Linked DNA regions of Homo sapiens. The protein of the gene in region 2 purifies or fractionates together with the protein of the main gene of each other region. This does not show direct contact. Each region holds a gene or a part of one and is shown on either strand. Other genes may lie near its edges.

What was found.
Region 1: the proteins of RALA (region 2) and EXOC3 purify together in Homo sapiens (affinity purification with western blotting; one study listed by BioGRID). This does not show direct contact.

What each region holds. Positions count from the first base shown.
Region 1 is NC_000005.10:456,523-460,175, forward strand, and holds part of EXOC3 (exocyst complex component 3), read left to right. Parts: intron 1-366; coding exon 367-484; intron 485-1,377; coding exon 1,378-1,503; intron 1,504-2,836; coding exon 2,837-2,937; intron 2,938-3,653. UniProt on the Homo sapiens protein: Component of the exocyst complex involved in the docking of exocytic vesicles with fusion sites on the plasma membrane.
Region 2 is NC_000007.14:39,626,468-39,630,120, reverse strand, and holds part of RALA (ras-related protein Ral-A precursor), read right to left. Parts: intron 1-3,653. UniProt on the Homo sapiens protein: Multifunctional GTPase involved in a variety of cellular processes including gene expression, cell migration, cell proliferation, oncogenic transformation and membrane trafficking.

The DNA of each region.
Region 1 (3,653 bases), on a different chromosome or scaffold from region 2:
TTCCACATTTGAGCCCCAGCACCTCATGAAGCTGGCGCAGCAGGGTGAAGCTGGGGTTGGAGGGACTCAAGTGGTCTCGGAGCCAGTGGGTGATGCCACAGAGACCCCAAAGCCCTCGGCCCCTGCCCTGCACTTTCCCCGGTTGGAGGGACTCACGCAGTCTGGGAGCCAGTGGGGTGATGCCACAGAGACCCCAAAGCCCTCGGCCCCTGCCCTGCACTTTCCCCTGAGCTGTGGGCCGGCTGTGACCAGGAAGTCTCCAGGGTGGTGGACATTCATGTGTCAAGTGAAACAGTCTCGGCACACTTGGGCATGCTCTTCTGTGTCTGTCGTGGTTTGTCACTCACATTCCTGGTTCCCCCATAGTACTGAGATGATGAGGAACGTGGAGCTGGCCCCGGAAGTGGATGTCGGCACCCTGGAGCCATTGCTTTCTCCACACGTGGTCTCTGAGCTGCTTGACACGTACATGTCCACGCTCACTGTGAGTAGGGCTGGCCTGCGTGCCACAGACCACCGTGCTGGTTATATGAGTAACTAGGGCTTGGCAGCAGGCAGGAGGCAGGGGGGAAATGCCTTAGCGTTGACTTCCTAGGATGCATTGCTCAGTTGCCCGGGCTCTGCTTCCAGGCCTTGACAGGTCAGTTTGCTAGAAGAGGAGAATGGCCCCTTCTCTGGGCCTGGATCTGAAGCTTGTCCTCTGCTGGAGACGTGAGCCTGTGCCCTACTCGGCAGGCTGGCCAGGGCCCAGAACGTCTGAACCGTGTGTGGCAGCACCTGCCAGGCTCTCGGCTCTGAGTCCCATGGTTGGGGGGGTCCGTCAAGGACCAAAGGGCGAGTCCATTTGCAGCCTGGTGACCACCAGGTGGTCTCAGAGTGAGAAGAGGAGGTCAGCAGGGTCTGCTTCTTAGACAAGGGTGCGTCCACCTAGCAAGGCAGCATTATGACCAGAAGCCGAGGTGTCCTCAGGAGCTGGGGAAGGAGCGCTGTCTTCTCTTGGGACGTGAGCTGCTGTGGTTGCTGAGTCTGGGCATGGGAACAGGCCTGACCGGACCTGGTCGGCCTCATTCTCTGTGCACCTGGGATTCAGCGGCCTTGTCCTCCAGCATGAGGTGCAGCCAAAAGGGCATCTAGTTTCTTCTCCCTCTTTATCTGTACCAAGGGTTCCAGTTAAACCCCTGCGGGCTGCTGTGGTCACTGCCTCCCATGGGGGTGGCTCCTGGGTCCCTGCTCTGGAGTCCTCATTTGAGAAAGAGGACGCTGGTGCCCTGTGTCTGGTTTGTGGAGCTTGTGCATGCAACTGACCAGGTAATTGGCATGACCCTCAGGCACCTGCTCTTCTCTCTTCTCTTCTCCATGATGCTGAACTTTCTTTAGTCAAACATCATCGCCTGGCTGCGGAAAGCGCTGGAGACAGACAAGAAAGACTGGGTCAAAGAGACAGAGCCAGAAGCCGACCAGGACGGGTACTACCAGACCACACTCCCTGCCATTGTCTTCCAGGTACCACCTGCAGGGGACTGGCACAGTTCCGTTTCCTAGGTGGATAGTGGGACCTGTAGGTTTTACAAAGTGACACAGATACCTGGGATCTTCATCCACAGAGTGTAGTAAAAATATTGAGAGCCCTGCCTGGTGCATCTAAGTCCTCTCCTCTCTCTGTCTCTTACTCTCTGGAGCTGCAGAAACCTGGGATGATACTTACCAAATAGTTTTGCCCAAGGTCACTTTACTTTTCTGACCTGGTCTTTATGGGTTTGGACTACAGCCTAATTGTATGTTATTTATGTGCGACTTTCAAATGTGAGTTTGTTTGGTCGATATCCAGGATTTGTCCTAAAAAATGGCACATGATTGAGTTTAAACAGGTGGATTTTGGGAGCGTCCATTATTTTTTTTGAGACGGAGTCTCACTCTGTTGCCCAGGCTGGAGTGCGGTAGCACAATCTTGGCTTACTGCAATCTCTACCTCCTGGGTCAAGGCGTCCATTAGCTTTTAAAGTTGCTTTCCTGTTCATTGGTTAAGGTTCTAAGTATTAGACCGACCTGCATTTTTACCACGGATTCACTTTCCAACGCCCAAGCCTCACTAGGTGTTAGAACCGGTGTGTTCTTACCACGGATTCACTTTCCAGTGTCCGACCGCCCTGTGTCCCGTTTTTCCTGCTCTTTTTTTCTTTTGGCACATCATGTGTTTTAATTTGAGTGGCATTGCTGAGGGATGGAGCCCCGTTGTGTTAGAATCCTCACTCAGGACTCTAGTTAGGCAGGAGTGAGGGCTGGCGGGTGACATTTCTCTCTGAATGATACCGTTAGTTATTGACAGGCTAGTCCAAACCCTTTCCTTTGTTTGGAAACAGATGCCGTGAGAAACTGTGAGGAGAGCTCTGTCCCCTTGCCCTTCCTCTGCCTGGGTCAGCTCCTGGCAGGGCCTGGCACACCCCAGGTCCAGATTCTTAGGAACTCTGCATCATGACAGTCATGGGGCCAGGGAGGGTGAGTCAGGTGCCTGAGGGGCGCCATCCCGGGTGGGGCCTCACTCCACACATTAAAACTCCAGTCACGTAGTGTGAGGACAGACATGGCCCCCGTGGGAGAAACCAGTTTGCCAGGAATTAAGAAATGAGTCACTTGGTACTTTCCCAGGTGAGAAAGTTGTTTTTTTTTTTTTTAAACTAACTTTGTTATTTTTCACGTGGTTTCATTTTTTTTTTCTCTGAATTTGGACTATCCTAAATGCCAGTTAGCAGATGGAGGTTTCATATAACAGCAAACCTGCACTCTTAGTATACTCCTGTAAGATTATACCAGAATTCATAAGTTCTCTGATTTTTAGATGTTTGAACAGAATCTTCAAGTTGCTGCTCAGATAAGTGAAGATTTGAAAACAAAGGTACTAGTTTTATGTCTTCAGCAGATGAATTCTTTCCTAAGCAGGTATGTCTTTCTGCCAGTGTGCTAATGTACACATTGAATGTTTTTAAAAATTAGAAGCAAAAATTTTTTGATCCTACTATGCCTGTTACTAAGAAGAAATTAAGCCGGTAGATTCCCCACGTGTCACTCCTGTGTTCTTCAAAAGCAAAGGGAGGGAGCGGAGCTTCTGGATCATCTTCCCCTTGAGTGGACCACACACCCCCTTGGGCTCCCAGAGCTGATGTGTTGTGACGTCCTTAGCGATGCGCCGGATGACACCAACTCTGTTGGAGTCAGGCTCCTCCTGTTGCCTGTTCTGAACTTCCTTGGGGTGGGGGTGGCGACTCCTGCCGCAGTGCCTACTTCGTAGTGGGGAGGGCGTCCTCGGCTGAGCCGGCCCTCCTCAGAAGGGCTCCAGGCAGCCATGACCTGGCACGCCACCCTCCCCATGAGTTGTTGATAATTTTCAAACCTATACAGATGTGGAAAAGAGTTTAAAAAACTGTGTTCACCCATCGTGCAGTCCAGAAGCCATCCCCTCCAAAGCCCCCTTGCCTAATCTGTTCTCCCCTGCCCATTCCACTCTCTCTGCTGAAGTACCTTCAGGCAAACCCCGGGCGCTGTGGCATGGTATTTGCGACCCTCTCTGAAGCCACTGCAGTGCCATCAAGTCAGAGACACATGCACGGTGACTCCGTGGGGTCATCCGATGCCAAGTCTGCGTTTGGGTTGTATCT
Region 2 (3,653 bases):
AGTGAGCTGTGATCGCACCATTGCACCGCTGCACTCCAGCCTGGAGGGTCCAGCAAGACTCTGTCTCAAAAAAAAGAAAAAAAGTAAAAGAAAGCTCGGCATGGTGGCTCACGCCTGTAATCCTAGCACTTGGGGAGGCTGAGGTGGACGGATCACGAGGTCAGGAGTTTGAGACCAGCCTGACCAACATGGTGAAACCCCATCTCTACTAAAAATACAAAATTAGGGTCAGGCACGGTGGCTCATGCCTGTAATCCCAACACTTTTGGAGGCCGAGGCAGGTGGATCACGAGGTCAGGAGATCGAGACCATCCTGGCTAACACGGTGAAACCCCATCTCTACTAAAAGTACAAAAAATTAGCCAGGCGTGGTGGCACGCGCCTGTAGTCCCAGCTACTCGGGAGGCTGAGGCAGGAAAATCGCTTGAACCTAGGAGGCAGAGGTTGCAGTGAGCTGAGATGGCGCCACTGTACTCCAGCCTGGCAGAGTGAGACCCCATCTCAAAATAAATAAATAAATACATACACACATACAAAAACGTGCTAGGCGTGGTGGCGTGCACCTGTAATCCCAGCTACTCAGGAGGCTGAGGCAGGAGAATCGCTTGAACCTGGGAGGCAGAGGTTGCAGTGAGCAGAGATCGTGCCACTGCACTCCAGCCTGGGCGACAGAGCGAAACTCCATCTCAAAAAGGAAAAAGAAAAGAAAAGAAAGTGAGCAAATAATATGAACAATAAAAATAAATATTAAAATGACCCTTAAACATATGAAAACATGTTCAATTCACTTGTAATAGAAGTACAAATGGAAAATACACTGAGATACAATTTCTTACCTATTAGATCAGCACAAATTCAAAAGCTGACAAAACACTGCTGGTGAGGCTGTGAGGAAATAAGCACTCTACTCTCATACACTGCTGGTAGGAATGCAAAATAGTATAACCCCACAGGATGAGGAGTTTGACAGTACCTAACAACTCTACATATGCATTTATCCTGAAGATGTATCTCTCCAACAATACAAAGATACATGTACACAAAGTTTTTCACTGTAACATCATTTGTAATTGCAAAATATTAGATATTACTTAAATGTTCAAACAGGACATTAGTCGAGAAAACTATGGTACATACACGATAGCAGTTAAGAATGAAAGTTACTGATTTTAGTTTATGTATTTTATCTTTTCACACAGCTACTGACTTGTTAGGAGATACATACTTATTAAGTTGTTCAGACCTAATTACTTAATAAATTAAACTGGCCAGGCATGGTTGCTGACGCCTGTAATCCCAGCACTTTGGGAGGCTGAGGCACATGGCTCACGAGGTCAGGAGTTCGAGACCAGCCTGGCCAGCATGGTGAAACCCCGTCTCTACTAAAAATACAAAAAATTAGCCAGGCATGGTGCCGCGTGCCTGTAATCCCAGCTACTCGGGAGGCTGAGGCAGGAGAATTGCTTGAACCTGGGAGGTGGAGGCGGCAGTGAGCCGAAATCGCGCCACTGCACTCCAGCACGGGTGAAAGAGCGAGACTCCGTCTCAAAAAACAAAAAACAAAAAAATTAAACTGTTAGGTGTTTCTTTTGACCTAGGGATGCTGTGAAAAAAATTACTGCGATAATAAGGGTGCCATGAATTGAGAAAGTTTGGGCACTTGACTGATAAAGGCCTACGAAGAAGGCCTTTAAGAGAGAGAAAGAATGTGTGTGTGTGTGTGTGTGTGTGTGTGTGTGTGTGTAGTTATGAGGTTACTGTGGACTGCTGTCAACAAAATTTACAATAGGCTAATGAAAGTACTCTCTCCAGTGTAGTTAAGAGCTGTAACAGATATTATGACAGCACATAAGAGAAGCAATCAGCCCAGTCTTAAAGGTTTTTTGTTTTTTGTTTTTTGAGGGATGGGATCCAGAGAGAGAACCTAATTGTAATTTTTTGGAGAATTATAACCTAAACTGAGTTCTGAAGGACCAGTAGGAGTATACTAGATTAGGGGAAGGAAGAGAGGCTAGAATTCCAGGAAGAGGAAATGGAGGACTGAGTAAACAAACACTAGCATTCCAGAAGCTGGGTATTGGTAGAACAAAAGATCATCCAAGAAGAGAGATAAGGCTAAAGGGTTAGGTAAGAAAAAAAATGAAAAATATGAAAGATAAAGGGGAAAAAAGAGAGTTAGGTAAGGAGCACATCTTGAAGGTTTTGTATATGAGATTAAGGATAAATGGAGTTTGAATTTTATTAATGGGCAAAAAAGAGCCACAAGAGGATTTTAAGCAGAGAAATATCACCATTGTTCTAAGCAAGAATGGGAAAAGTATCAGATGGGTTCCAACCATAGGCTAGAAGGCTGCTGTAGTAATCCAGAATATCTAGACAGGGCAGCTGAACTCAGTGTTTGGTCACGCAGTGTGGCAACCTCCACTTTTAATGGAGTACTATGTTAGCTTCTCAACTACATAAGAAAACAGATCCTGTGGCTTAGATGACCATAATCATAACTTTTGGAAACTGGGGGATCTTTGCCCACCTTCCCAATAAATCTGGGAGTATACGCCATTTTATAATCTAACTATGTCTTATTGTCCAAAATAACATTACCAAACCCTGACATTTAGTTTCAAAAGTAAATTCAGCAATAAAATTGGATCCCAGACTTTAAGGAGACTATGTATGTCAGTGTTACATCTATTGCATCTAATATAGGACCCTAGCTGTGAAGGCCTTTAAGAATAGTATAATTTTATGGAAGCATGCCTTTTTTGGCTTGTAAAGACTACCCTCTTGACTTTCAGAAACTAAGTCATCACCTTCACGTATAATTAAATCAAAGATGCAAATTCTCACCTAAAATTTACTCATACATATTTTAGAAACCCATAGAACTTTAATTTCTTTTTTTCTATACGGCAACCCAAATCCTTATGAATGCGATAAGGTAATAAGAAAGATGTCTTAAAGAAAAAACAGAATAACTGTTACTTATGGGGGCCAGACAATCAGCTGTTTTTTACTTAAGGGTACATCTTTTAAAAAAAAAAAAGAGAGAGAGAGAGAGATGGACACATTCTTCAAATTAAGCCTATTTAAAAGTGCATTTTAAAAAGTGCACAGGCTTAGGAGGGAAGAGAATTCTACCAGCACTGAATAGCAGCTAAACCCTTACAAGACTTCTGCCACTTTTAAGCCTCCATCTTAAACCCAGAGAAAATGATTAATGGTCTCAAACGGTTAAAAACAGACCAAGCACATCTCTGCTTCTTTTACCATTCTTTCTACTGTCCCCCATAGCTTCTCCCCCATTTCCATTAGTGAAAGAACGAACTAAAAAAAATGTGATTTCAAGGAAAGGTCACTACAAATAGATTTATGGTATTCCTCTCAAATAGGGACGATTCTGTTACTTTAAAAAGCACTAATCAAACACCAGAATTGAGTCCAAATACTTTACCGGGACACCCACGGGAAAAATGCCCAACCATTTTTCCATCATGGCACACATGGACGGTGATAACACTGTATTTGTAGGCACGCTGAAGATAAAAGAGAAGAATGGCTGCTGCTTGAGGCCACCTGGCCAGGACTGCTGGCAACCCCAGGCCACACTTGATGTCCAAGAGAGAGGAATCAGTATCTTCACCTTCCTGAAGCTC